Regions from separate parts of the Homo sapiens genome. Here region 2 is linked to region 1. The links come from fine-mapping of genetic effects on gene expression. Tissue or cell type: whole blood. Region 1 holds a variant in brackets; the other region holds the start of a gene. All regions are shown on one strand. Distances are between the middles of the regions.

The links. PIP is the estimated chance that this variant, and not a neighbour inherited with it, causes the effect.
Region 2: FCHO1 starts here. The variant in region 1 is fine-mapped to the expression of FCHO1 in whole blood (TOPMed, PIP above 0.99).

Annotation. Positions count from the first base shown.
Region 1 is chr19:17,767,955-17,775,686 of GRCh38, forward strand. It overlaps FCHO1 (FCH and mu domain containing endocytic adaptor 1), which reads left to right. Exons shown (of 29, transcript NM_015122.3): 8 at 2,471-2,623; 9 at 2,838-2,942; 10 at 4,503-4,601; 11 at 4,691-4,787; 12 at 6,285-6,329; 13 at 6,440-6,524; 14 at 7,102-7,126; 15 at 7,502-7,559. Among named protein-coding and RNA genes, the nearest start is that of FCHO1, 20 kb to the left of the region's middle. The variant A/G (reference allele first, on the strand shown) is at 3,785.
Region 2 is chr19:17,747,474-17,753,957 of GRCh38, forward strand. It overlaps FCHO1 (FCH and mu domain containing endocytic adaptor 1), which reads left to right and starts at 4,004. Exons shown (of 29, transcript NM_015122.3): 1 at 4,004-4,104. It overlaps FCHO1-AS1 (FCHO1 antisense RNA 1), which reads right to left and starts at 3,924. Exons shown (of 5, transcript XR_007067152.1): 1 at 3,743-3,924; 2 at 3,185-3,277; 3 at 1,810-1,890. RefSeq lists a silencer at 57-476 and an enhancer at 6,162-6,484.

The sequences.
Region 1 (7,732 bases):
TCCAAAGCTTATAATTGTAGAATCATAGATGCATTGTCTTTACAGAGTTCCAAAATCTGCATGTTTTTATGTCTTGTTTAAAAAGGGGGTTGGTAATACTTTGTTTTTGTTTTGTTTTGTTTTGTTTTTTTGAGATGGAGACTTGCTCTGTTGCCCAGGCTGGAGTGCAGTGTGCACAATCTCAGCTCACTGCAATCTCCATCTCTTGGGTTCAAGCAATTCTCCTGCCTCAGCCTCCCAGGTAGTTGGGATTACAGGTGTGCTGGTGCACGCCTGGCTAATTTTTTGTATTTTTAGTAGAGACAGTGTTTCACCATGTTGGCCAGGCTGGTCTTGAATTCCTGACCTCAGGTGATCTGCCCGCCTCAGCCTTCCAAAGTGTTGGGATTACAGGTGTGAGCCACCGCGCCTGGCTTTGCTGATTTTTAAATTTTTTGTATAGAAGGGATCTTGCTAGCCAGGAGCGATGGCTCATGCCTGTAATCCCAGCACTTTGGGAAGTTGAGGCAGGCATATCACTTGAAGTCAGGAGTTCCAGACCAGCCTGGCCAACATGGTGAAACCCTGTCTATACTAAAAACACAAAAATTAGCCAGACGTGGTGGCACACACACCTGTAATCCCAGCTACTCAGGAGGCTGAGACAGGAGAATGACTTGAGCCTGGGAGGTGGAGGTTGCAGTCAGTTGAGATCGCGACACACCACTCCAGCCCGGGCAACAGAGTGAGACTCTGTCTCAAAAACAAAACAAGGCAAAAAAAAAAAAAAGGAGAGAGAGAAGGGGTCCTGCTGTGTTGCCCAGGCTGGTCAAACATCTAACATATCTGCCTCAGCCTTCCAAAATGTTGGCATTACAGGCATGGGTCACTGTGCCTGGCCAGGAGTGAATTTTTAAGTGGTAAAAGCAGGCCAGGCGTGGTGTGCATGCCTGTAGTCCCAGCTACTTGGGAGGCTGAGCTGAGGTGTGAGAATTGCTTGAGCCTAAGAGTTAGAGACCAGTTTGGGCAACACAGTGAGACCCCATCTCTTAAAAAAAAAAGCTGGGCACAGTGACTTATGTCTGTAATCCCAGCACTTTGGGAGGCTGAGGCGGGCAGATCACCTGAAGTCGGGAGTTCAAGACCAGCCTGGCCAAAATGGTGAAACCCTGTCTCTACTAAAAATACAAAATTAGCCGGGCATGGTGGTGCATGCTTGTAATCCCAGCTACTTGGGAGGCTGAGGCAGGAGAATCGCTTAAACCCGGGAGGCGGAGGTTGCAGGGAGCTGAGATTGTGCCACTGCACTCCAGCCTGGGTGAAAGAGCAAGACTCCGCCTCAAAAAAAAAAAAAAAAAAAAGGCCTGGCACGGTGGCTCAAGCCTGTAATCCCAGCACTTTGGGAGTCCGAGGCAGGCAGATCACGAGGTCAGGAGATCGAGACCATCCTGACTAACACGGTGAAACCCCGTCTCTACTAAAAATACAAAAGAAAAATTAGCCGGGCGTGGTGGCGGCGCCTGTAGTCTCAGCTACTCAGGAGGCTGAGGCAGGAGAATGGCGTGAACCCGGGAGGCGGAGCTTGCAGTGAGCCAAGATCGCGCCACTGCACTCCAGCCTGGGTGACACAGCGAGACTTCGTCTCAAACACACACACACACACACACACACACACACACACACACACACACACACACACAAAACGGTGAGTTAAGCAACACAGTCTGCCACTGTTTGTCATAAAACTTGGGTTAGAACAAGCATCTTTATCCATATGCGGATTATTTCTAGAGAAGTATCACAGTAATAATTGGGGACTTCTAGGCTGGAGGGCCCATATATGGGAGGCTTTTTCCTGGCTTACCTCTTACAACTTTCTGAAATATGAACCATGTGTAAATAGTACTTTTTTTTAAAGTTAAAAATGTTTTGAAATGAAAAACGTACAGGCCGGGCGTAGTGGCTCACACCTGTAATCCCAACACTTTGGGAGGCTGAGGCAGGTGGATTGCTTGAGTGTAGGAGTTTGAGACCAGCCTGGGCAACATAGCAAGACCCCATTGCTATTAAAACACACACACAGAGGCCGGGCGTGGTGGCTCACACCTGTAATGCCAGCACTTTGGGAGGCCAAGGTGGGCAGATCACCTGAGGTCAGGAGTTAGAGACCAGCCTGGCCAACATGGTGAAACCCCGTCTCCACTAAAAATACAAAAAATTATCTGGGTGTGATGGTGAGCACCTGTAATCTCAGCTACTTGGGAGGCTGAGGCAGGAGAATTGCTTGAAACCGGGAGGCAGAGATTGCAGTGAGTCGAGATCGTGCCACTGCACTCCAGCCTGGACAACAAGAGCGAAACTCTGTCTAAAAAAAACCAAACCAAAACACACACACACACATAGAAAAAGACTGTGGAGCTGACATCACGTGGAGTGTTTGGGAGGTCAGGAATTTCACAGTCTACCCATGAAATCCCCTCCTACCCCGCAGTGCAAGGAGGAAGTGGTGAGCACCTTGGATGCTGTGCAGGTACTCTCGGGCGTCAGCCAGCTCCTGCCCAAGTCCCGCGAGAACTACCTGAACCGTTGCATGGACCAGGAGCGGCTGCGGAGGGAGAGTACCAGCCAGAAGGAGATGGACAAGGTGGGCTCACAGTGGGGGGGTTCTGAGGAATTTGCCGCGGGGCGGAGGGGCTGCCTGATCAGAGAGTGGAAACACATCCCAGAGCGACGGTCCTGGAACCTGTGGGTGATCACACCCTGGGTACCCCGAGGAGTTCACCTGCCAGGTGATGGGGCCTGGGGGAGGCCCCCTGAGTATCGCCCTCCCATCCCCGTTTCCTCCCTGTGCTTTGTAGGCGGAGACTAAAACCAAGAAGGCGGCAGAGAGCCTGCGGCGCTCAGTGGAAAAATACAACTCAGCCCGAGCTGACTTTGAGCAGAAGATGCTGGACTCAGCCCTGGTAAGAACCAGGCATCTGTACCTTTAAGACCCACACATGCCTTTGCCCTGGAGGTTATGGACTGCAGAAATCCCAGGCAGGGTGTGGTGGCTCACACCTGTAATCCCAGCACTTTGGGAGGCCGAGGCGGGAGGATCACCTGAGGTCAGGAGTTTGAGACCAGCCTGGCCAACATGGCGAAAGCCTGTCTCTACTAAAAATACAAAATTAGCCGGGCGTAGTGGCAGGTGCCTGTAATCCCAGCTACTCAGGAGGCTGAGGCGGGAGAATCACTTGAACCAGAAGGCGGAGGTTGCAGTGAGCCAAGATCGAGCCATTGTACTCCAGGTTAGGTGATAGAGTGGAACCCTGTCTCGAAAAAATAAAATAAATTCAAGCAGATTGGAATCTGAGGATTAGGAATCAGAACTTTTTTCAAGTTACAAGTGATAGAAGCCTTCATTCAAACCGACAGGTGTATATAAAAAAAAAAAAGAAAAGAAAAGAAAAAGGCTGGGCGCGGTGGCTCATGCCTGTAATCCCAGCACTTTGGGAGGCCGAGGCAGGTGGATCACGAGGTCAGGAGATCGAGACTATCCTGGCTAACACGGTGAAACCCCCTCTCTACTAAAAATACAAAAAAATTAGCCGGGCGTGGTGGTGGGTGCCTGTAGTCCCAGCTGCTCAGGAGGCTGAGGCCGGAGAATGGCGAGAACCCAGGAGGCGGAGCTTGCAGTGAGCCGAGATTGCGCCACTGCACTCCAGCCTGGGCGACAGAGCGAGACTCTGTCTCAAAAAAATAAAAAATAAAATAAAAAATAAAATTTAAAAAAACTGACAAGCTCAGGGAACTGTAAAGTTTT[A/G]TTTTTGAGTTGTGGAGGTTTCAGTCATAGCTGAATCCATGTGCTCAAATAGTGCTGGCAGGAAATTGTGAATTTCTGCTTCTTTTATTTTTTTGAGATGGGATCTCTCTGTCACTCAGGCTGGAGTGCAGTGGCGTGATCTCAGCTCACTGCAACCTCCGCCTCCTGGGCTCAAGTGATTCTCCTGCCTCAGCCTCCCTAGTAGTTGGGATTACAGGCACGTGCCACCACACCCAGCTAATTTTTGTATTTTTAGTAGAAACGGTTTCACCATGTTGCCCAGACTGGTCTTGAATTCCTGACCTCAGATGATCCACCTGCCTTGGCCTCCCAAAGTGCTGGGATTACAGGCATGATACACCACAGCTGACCACTATTTCTGCTTCTTAAGTCTGTTTTTCTCTCTGGGGACATCACTCCCACACAGACATCCCCTTGTGTGTGTGTGTGTGTGCATGTGTGTGCAAGCATGCACATGTGTGCATCAAACTGGGCACCAGCAACCCCCACTTACATCCCATCAGCACATTGGCTCAGGAATGGAAGTGCCTTTTCCTGTAGAGTCAATGAAAGTCCTAGGGCAGACTCTCATTGGCCCTTCCCCAAATCAATCACTGAGCCAAGGGCTTAGGGTATTCTGATTGGTCAGGCTGAGTCATATGGCCACTTCTTCTTGGCCCTGACCTCCTTTCCACCTGCCTCTGCCCTCCTGCTTCAGCGCTTCCAAGCCATGGAGGAGACACACCTGAGGCACATGAAGGCACTGCTGGGCTCATATGCTCACTCGGTGGAGGACACGCACGTGCAGATTGGGCAGGTGAGTTGGGCAGGTGTGAGGAATGAGGCTGGGGTCACTGCTGGGCAAAGGGGCCTTGACCAGTTACACACCCCGCCCACCCGGCACAGGTGCATGAGGAATTTAAGCAGAACATCGAGAACGTCAGCGTGGAGATGCTACTCAGGAAGTTTGCAGAGAGTAAGGGCACAGGCCGGGAGAAGCCTGGTGAGTCAGGGCAGCCATTGGGGGTCGGGCTTCGGGGCCACAGCTGCAGACAGGCATGTGCCACCATGCCCAGCTAATTTTTTTTTTATTTTTTTATTTTTAATAGAGACGAGGTTTCACCATGTTGGCCAGGCTGGTCTCGAACTCTTGACCTCAGGTGATCTGCCTGCCTCGGCCTCCCAAAGTGCTGGGATTACAGGCGTGAGCCACTGCACATGGCCAGGCCTTGGTTTCTTCATGGGAAAAATGGGCTGCTGACAAGTCCAGCTCTCCAGCCTGATCTTATGTGTAAATGTCTTTGAACCAGATCCCAGAGGAGCCTTGAATGCCAGGCTTGGCTGATCAGACTTCACCCCCAGGGCCTAAGGGAGCCATTGAGGGTTGTTGAGCAAAAGAACAATTTGGGAATGCGCAGATGCAGGACTGGGAAGGAGTTAAGAGCAAAAGTTTTAGAGTGAGACGTGGGTTTGAGTCTTTTCTTCATCGCTTGCTGTGTGACCTAGGACCTGTGCTTTGACTTCTCTGAGCCTCAGTTTCCTCATCTGTAAAGTGAGGATGTAATAATGTTGCAACATTCAGTGATTTCATGCAGGTAAAGGGCAAAGGGTGTGCCAGGCACACAGTAGGCACTCACTAAATGCTGGTATACAGTTACGTCCTCAAGTCTTGTTAACTAGCAAAACCTGTTCTTTCTCCCTCCTGTCGCTCTGGCTCAGGCCTGGCTCAGGTCTCCCCTCCCTGCATGGGGCCCCACTCTTGCCCTTCACAGGCCCCAGATCTGTTTTGTCCTCCTCCTGCTCACACACCTTCCATGGCTCCCCATTGTTCTTGGGAGAGAGTTCCCACTCCTTATCCTGTCACTCAAAGCCCAGCCCACTGCACAGACGCATGGTCCATTCCCCGACCCAACCCAAGTTCCAGCCACAAATGCTGGAAGTATGTAGAAGTAGCTCATGTCACCCCCTGCGGTGGCACTGCCCTGCTGGAACCAGACCAGCCCCTTGGTCCATCCCACTTCTGATGATGTGGGGCTGGTTCTTGTCCGGGAACCTGATGGACCTTGAGTTCAGATCCAGGTGCCATTTTGTGGCCAAAAGTGTACTACCCTTTCCAAGCGCAGTCTCCCCACCCTCAATTTAGTTTCTTTCTCTCTCTCTCTCTCTTTTTTTTTTTTTTTTAATTTTTTTGAGGCAGAGTCTTGCTCTGTCACCCAGGCTGGAGTGCAGTGGTGCAGTCTCGGCTCACTGCAACCTCCGCCTCCTGGGTTCAAGCGATTCTCCTGCCTCAGCCTCCCCAGTAGCTGGGATTACAGGCGCCTGCCACCATGTCCGGCTTTTTTGTAATTTTAGCAGAGACAGGGTTTCACCATGGTGGCCAGGCTGGTCTTGAACTCCTGACCTCAGGTGATCCGCCCGCCTTAGCCTCCCAAAGTGCTGGGATTACAGGCATGGGCCACCGTGCCCAGCCCCTCAATTGAGTTTCCGTCTCCTGTCTCAGGACCTCTGGACTTCGAGGCATACAGTGCGGCTGCCCTGCAGGAAGGCAAGTACGTCTGGGCCTGGATGCCCAGGCTGGACCATGGGGGTGAGGGAGGCTGATCTGAATGTGAAAGGAGGCTCACAGTGCTCAGGTGCCCCCCAATCTATCCTCAGCGATGAAACGTTTGCGGGGAGCCAAGGCCTTTCGCCTTCCAGGACTAAGCCGGCGGGAGCGGGAGCCAGAGCCACCTGCAGCTGTGTGAGGAAGCACCCCTGCCCGGTCTGGCCCAGGCTAGACCGAGATCCCCTCCCCTGCCCAGGCTATCCCAGAAGTCCCCTCCTAGGATAGCCCAGGAGTATCCATATTCCAGGCTGGACCAGGATTCCCTCTACCTGAGCTAGACCAGGAGTACCTCTGCCCCCGGCTAGCTCAATATTACCGCTGCCCAAGCTAGTCCAGAATTCTTCCTTTTGCTAGGTTAGGCCAGGAATTGCCTGTCCCAGAGTAACGTAGCATCTTCCCTGCCCAAGCTGGCCCAGGATTGTTCTGTTTGCCAAGGCTAGCCCCGACTTTCCCTATCTTCACAAGGCAGCCCTTCAAATGAGTTCCAGGATTCCTTCCCTCCCAGGCTGTTTGAGAACACTCTCTACTCAGCTAACTTCAGATTCAACCCCCTCCCCAAGCAAGCCCCATGGTCCCACCGCCTCTAGGGCTAGCTCAGGGCAGTATCACAGTCTGGGAGCTGCCCCAGCTTCCATGTCCAGTGTTGGGGGCTGACAGGGGGCACCAGATGGGCTGCGGAAGCTGACACCAACATCTCTTCCTCCATCCCCAGAGATTTCCTGGAGCCCGATTCAGGGGTGAGTGATGTGGGAGGGGTCAGGCTGGGCTACAAGTGGAAGGAGTTTGATCCCACTCTTGGCTCCTAGAGTCCCGATCCCTACTGGAAACTAAAGAGCCGAGATTGAGGGGCGGGCTGGAGCCTGGGGGCTGGGTTCATATCCCACCTCAGCTGCAAAGTCCCATGGACTACGTGGGTGTGAATAATGTCCCTGCCGAAGCTCAGTTTGTCCCAGGAACCTGCCCACACACCCAGGGAAGACAGTCGTTGCCATCAGGGTTGGTTTTGAGGTCTGAGTCAAGGCCTGGGGGCAGGGCGGGGGGCGGTTGGCAGGGTGAGATGGAAGGTTCGATAGTGGGGCGCCTGACTCACTGCTGCCCCCTGACTCCCCTAGACATGTCCAGAGGTGGATGAAGAAGGTTTCACTGTCCGGCCTGATGTGACCCAGAACAATATCCTTCTGGCACCCCCTGGGGGCAGTTGTTGGCACAGCAAGGACAAAATTCTCCGTAATAACCAGTCCACCTTCAGCAGTCCTCTCTGTGTACATCCTGGAGAGAGTCTCCTTTGTGGATGAAGCCAACCTAAATGTAAACACCCACTCTATGGGGTCAGCACTGGGCAA
Region 2 (6,484 bases), 21 kb before region 1:
AGGGCGAAAGAGTGGCGCCTGTCTCTTTAAATTATGCAAATAGACTGCGGGTGGCGTAAGGGGGGGAACATAAAAAGGAGCCTAGTCTTCGGCTGGACCAATCAGCGCGCTGAGCTGGCGGAGCTGGGCGCCTAAATGGCCCAATGGGGGGCCGCGCGGGATCAGAGCCCGCCCTGCCTCCTGGCGCCGTCGCGGGGGTGGGGACTTTCTAGGCCACGCCCCGGGGGCGGAGCCCGCCGGCAGCCGCGCCGCAGCCGCGGAGGGAGGGGCGGGGCGGGCTCCGGTGTCAGCGACCAAGCCGCAGGTGGCGGCGAGCGCGGGGCTCGGCCCGAGCTCAGGAGGTGAGTGTTGCCCCCCGGAACCCCCTGGGATACCCTGGCCCGCGCAGCCTCCCACGCGCACCGTGCCCTGCAGCCCCGGCGGCTGCGGAGGGCAAAGGCGCGGCGGGACGCGAGGGATGGAGAGCAGGGGGTTGGGGCTACGCGGTGGGCGCCCCGGCTTCCCCCTCCAAGTGGTAATTGGGGGTCCGCAGGCGAAAATGGGGACCGCTCCCCAAATCCCCCGTCTCCTGGCCTAGAACCGAGCGTGCACGGGGGCGGCGACGACGCGAGACCCCTCCCCAAATTCTTTTATTCTAAGCCTAGGTCTGGGTTCTGGGGCTGCAAAGATGGGGGCGCCGCTCCCCTTCCAGCCTGGAACCCTGGGCGGTGGCTGAGATGGGGACCACCCGCAGATTCCCTCTTCCCAGCTCCGGCCTGCAGACCACCGGGGACCGAGACGAGGGACCCCTTCCCTTTTCCTCCACTGTGAACCCCTATCCAGGCCTGGTGGCTGGAGGAGCTGGGGTGTCACCTGGCCCCTCCTCTAATCTGCCCCATCCCAGTCCTCCACCTTAAGGATGGGGTGGGGGGCGTTTCACTGGCATCTTCTGTGGGGACCCCAAGGTTGGAATTTTGGGGAGGAGGTCACTGTGGGGTCCCCTGCCTGGCACGGTTTATCCAGGCCAGGCCTTGAAGGGCCTGGAGCCTGGACTTGGGGGGGGGGTCCCTCTTTTACTGAGGGGCGGGGTGTACAGCTAGCATCTGTTTCTGGGGATTAAAATAAATCGAGGTAAATTAGGATCTTGCCAGAGGCTGGCTGTGAGTGGGGTGCGGAGGAGGCTTGGGGGGTGGGGGACCCCTCCATCTGCCTTGGATCCCCCGAGTCACCTGCCCCAGCTGCACTGGGGACCAGGAGGCAGTGTCGAATGGACCTGCTTCACTGGTGACCTTGGGCAGGTGACAGCACCTTTCTGAACCTCGGTTTCCTCTTTTGAAAATTGAGGTTGGGAGCTTCGGACCCTGCATTTTACAGATTCTGAACTCACCCAGCCCACATTTTGTCCAATGGTGATTCACTCTTTTGCTTAACATGTGGGTGGTTTGGGGTCAAGACAGCATTGGGTTTGGAGACCCTCCCACAGTGCCTTGCTATCCTCTCAGCCTCAGTTTACTGCACTGCAAAATGGGTTGATGATGACACTCTGATATTGGGGCTGAGGGCATGGGGACAGGGAGTAAAACATAGGACCAAGCTGCAATGGCTGGGATGGGGCATCGCCACCCTGGTCTCACCATTGGGGCCACTTAGGGCACACCCTGACCCACATACCATCACCCACGCCAGGGGTGAACCTGTTCTCGGGCGAGGTCCTGGGCAGGAGGGGGTGGGAGTTGCCAGGCCAGCTCATTCCCTGTCCCTTGGAGCGCCCTCCCAGTGGTGGGCATGGGGCTGGGAGTCTGACACCCCCAGGTTTGAATTTGCCTCTACCTGTGTGTGTGTTTTTCCCTTGGTGCCTTTGTTTGTTCTTCTGTGAAATGGGCTGAATTCCTCTGGGAAGATGGGAGGAGTCTGTGGGAGGAGGAAGCTCTGTAAATACAGACATGATTATTATAATATTAATGACAGTATTAGTGCTCTTTAAATCGGGTCACAGCTGACCAGGAGGAGGGAGGGGAAGGGGGAGTCTATCAAAGGCATTGCCTGAGGAGACTCCAGCACCTGGGAAAGTTGGGTACACAGTAGGCATTCAATAGATGTTTGCCAAATGAAGTGAGGAAGAGGGAGGGGACCCATGGGGAGGACAGAAAATTTCTGAGAATCCCTGGCTCAGATTCCCACTTGGTGGCCCGAGTCACTGTGTGACCTGGGGCACGTGTCTCAGTTTCCCCATCGTGGTGCTGGTTGAGATAAGATACTGCCTTGAGGTGTGGTGACGAGAATCAAGCCAGATTGTCTGTGATCGCAGCCCAGGTGGCGAGGCCAAGAGGGGAGACATGACATAGTGGGTCATTGAAACAGCATGGTACCTGCTTGAACCAAGTGACTGGTCCGTGGGAAGGATGAGAAAACCCTTGCTACTGGCCCTACTGTACATACACTGGGGTCCAAGAGAGAGGGAAATGTGAGATCCTGTTTCCCAGGATCCTGGAAGCCAGATCGTGGAAGGTCAGGAGTGGCCCAAGGTCATCAGGCAAGACGTCAGCGGCTCCGGACACCCAGCCAGGCACCACTCGATTCCCAGGATGGGAGCTCGGGTCTTGCCTTTGTTGCTGATGTGGTTCCTGCTTTGTTTTATCTGTTCTGGGGCTGCTCACATGTCTCAGCCCCAGGTTTGCAAGACTTGGTGCCGGGAAGGCAGGATGGGGACCTCTGAGTCAGCTGGCAATGTGCTGTGTAACCTTGGGCAAGTCTCCGGCCATCTCTGGGCTTTGTGCTGGTACTGTACAGGCTGGGAGACTTGGGTTCTAGCAGGGCTGACTTCTCCATCAGACCCAAAATGCCCAGTGTCTCAGGCTCACAGTGCTTTTAGGGGTCCCTAGGTTGATGTTTTCACTTCTTTTAAAATCCAAAGGGAAAAAAATGAACTCTTGGGTTGAAGGAAACATTTTTGTGTATAATATTAATATATTTGTCTTTATGTCAATGTAGTTGTAAAATACAGTTTTGTTTTGTTTTGTTTTTGAGACAGAGTCTCTCTCTGTCACCCAGGCTGGAGTGCAGTGGCTCGATCTCCGCTCACTGCAACCTCCATCTCCTGGGTTCAAGCGATTCTCCTGCCTCAGCCTCCCGAGTAGCTGGGATTACAGGCATATGCCACCCCACCCAGCTAACTTTTGTATTTTTAGTAGAGACGGGGTTTTACCATGTTGCCCAGGCTGTTCTCGCACTCCTGGGCTCAAGCAATCCACCTGCCTCGGCCTCCCAAAGTGCTGGGATTCCAGGCATCAGCCACCACCTAAAATATAATTTTAAATTTCTTTTGTAGTGAAGGAAAGCGCTCATGAATGCAAAAATGTCTTCCCCTTTCTTTTCTTTTTTTTTTTTTTTTGAGATGGAGTCTCGCTCTGTCGCCAGGCTGGAGTGCAGTGGCGCAATCTCGGCTCACTGCAACCTCTGGCTCACTGCAACCTCCACCTCCCGGGTTCAAGTGATTCTCCTGCCTCAGCCTCCTGAGTAGCTGGGACTACAGGCATGGGCCACCACGCCCAGCTAATTTTTGTATTTTTAGTAGAGACGGGGTTTCACCGTGTTGGCCAGGATAGTGTCAACCTCTTGACCTCGTGATCCACCCACCTTGGCCTCTCAAAGTGCTGGGATTACAGGCGTGAGCCACCGCGCCTGGCCATGTCTTCCCCTTTCTGAGCGCATTTCCCTCTCTGAGCCTCAGTTTGCCCAGTCTGTGAAGTGGGTATCGGCCTACCTCAGGATGGCAAGATGTTGAATGCCTGGGCCAGGGTTGGTGCTCAGTTATTTCCCAATTGCCATGATTAATATTTGTTCGGTAAGAACAGCTCCAGGTTCAGGCCGGGGGGCTCCAGGTTCAAGCGCCTCTTGTTTACTCACCCATGGCCTGTGTGGTTCCAGGGAGGTCCCATGGGTGCTGATCGGGCGGGGGAGGAAAGGTGGCGGTTGGATGGTAGGCGGGGCGGGGTGAGCTTCCTGTCCCCCCCCCAACCCATGCACACAAGCCTCCAACTTGGTGCTGACGGAAGTGGCCTCGTGGCTGTCTCCTGGCGCCTGCCCCGTCAGACAGGGGCCCCATCCCACTCGCTACCCTGTCCGGTGAGTTTGAGCCCTGGCCAGTAGATACCCATCATCTCGCCTTGGCCCCCCTCAGGAACAGAGGGGAGGCCCCCCTGCCCGGAGCCTGGGTTTCAGGAGAAGTAGCAGGTGTCACTTCCTGGGCTGGCCAAAGCCTGCATGGGGCCACCCGTTGCCCTGCCCCCCGTCCCCCATTCCAGCTGTGAGTGGTGGTTTGGGTTAGGGGGGCGGCAAGGGGAGCTTGGAAACCCAGAGAGCCACGCGTGATGGTTTCAAACAGGAGGTCATTGGCAGACAGACCAGGGGCAAAATCACAGTCAGCCGGGACCAATGATTGATCTCTCTGTGCCTCGGTTTCCTTCATAAAGTTGGGGTTGCCTCTGAGGGCATGGCATGAAGATTGGATGAGCAGATGCGTGTGAATAGTTGGGTACAGGGTCGCACACATACTGGTGCTCCATGTGTATCTGTCTGCCAGAGGTGGGGTGAGGCAATCTAATTGAAACTGTGAAAACAGTAGTGAGATTCTTGGTTTCTGGGGAACTTGGGCTCCTTGGTTCCTGGGATCTTCTAGAACAATGTTGGCCATCCAATACAGCAGCCATCAGCCCCATGTAGCTACTGAGCCTTGGAAGAGAGGCTGGCACAGCTGAGGAGCTGGGCATATAATTGTATGTATGTATGTATGTATGTATGTATGTATTTAATTATTATTTTTTTAAGACAGAATCTCACTCTTTCAACCAGGTTGGAGTGCAGTGGGGCAATCTTGGCTCACTACAACCTCCGCCTCCCAGGTTCAAGTGATTCTCCTGCCTCATCCTCCCAAGTAGCTGGGACTACAGGTGTGTGCCACCACGCCCTGCTGATTTTTATATTTTTTGGTAGAGATGGGGTTTCACCATGTTGGCCAGGCAGGTCTCGAACTCCTGACCTCAAGTGATCCACCCACCTCGGCCTCCCAAAGTGCTGGGATTACAGGCGTGAGCCACTGCGCCCAGCCAATTGTATTTAATTTTACTTGGTTTAACATTAATACAAAAATTAATACAAAAATTAAGGCCAGGGGTTGTGGCTCATGGCTGTAATCCCAGCACTTTGGGGGTCCCAGGCAGGAGGATGGCTTGAGCTCAGGAGTTCGAGACTGGCCTGGGCCACACTAGTGAGACCTAGTCTCTACAAAAAAAAAAAAAAAAATTTATTTTTAATTAGTTAGACATGTAGTCCCAGCTACTCGGGTGGCTGAGATGGGAGGATCACTTGAGCCTGGGAAGTCGAGGCTGCCATGAGCTGTGATCATGCCACTGCACACTCCAGCCTGGGTGACAGAGCAAGAACCTGTCTCCAGAAAAAATAAAAAAATAAAAAAAACTTAATACAAAAATTATTCAGGCGTGAGCCTGTAGTCTCAGCTACTCGGGAGGCTACTATTCAAGGCTCCCTTGAGCCTGGGAGGTGGAGGCTGCAGTGAGCTATGATCGCACCACTGCACTCCAGCCTGGGCAACAGAGCGAGACCCTGTCTCCAAAAAAAAAAAAAATTAAGTCACCACATGGGGCTAGTGGTTCCCATGCCAGTCAGCACAGCTCTAAGAGATTTGGAGATGCTTAGGGTCCTGGTCATGGACAGAAGCTAAGAAATGATATGGAAATTTAGGGCTTTTCCCCTAGGGATGTCAGTGTAGCATGCTCACCACCCTACCCCTGCCACCAAACTAGGTTTCCTAAGGGGGTGTGGTGGGGACTGAAGTTTTTCAGGGGCCCTGTCATTAACCAGTGCAGGGTTGGGAATGTTTGTTGAAACAAATAATTCCTTGCCCAGTGAACTCCTATTCATGCTTTAAAACCCCAACTCCCATGAGCCCTCCTTTAGTCCAGGTTCTTTTGGACCTTGTCCCTCCATCTGGCCCAGCCCTGACCATGCAGGACGGTGATATCTGTGTCCAGCTCTGTCTCTCTAGACTGGGGACTCCTGCAGGGCCAGGCCCGAGGCTGAATCAACTCAGGGACCCTGACATTGTTCTAGTCTGGGTGAGCAAGTAGGAGGTCTTGGGTGACTCACAGAAGTCCCGGGATTGGAGGCTCAATGATAATGGGTCCAATTAAACTAACTAACTTTCTTTCTTTTTGAGACAGGGTCTTACTCTGTCGCCCAGGCTGGAGTGCAGTGGCGCCATCTCAGCTCACTGCAACCTCCGCCTCCCAGGTTCAAGCGATTCTCCTGTCTCAGCCTCCCAAGTAGCTGGGATTACAGGTGCCCGCCACCACACCTGGCTAATTTTTGTATTTTTAATAGAGACAGGGTTTCACCACTTTGGCCAGGCTGGTCTCAAACTCCTGACCTCAAGTGATCTGCCCGCCTCGGTCCCCCAAAGTGCTGGGATTACAGGCGTGAGCCACCA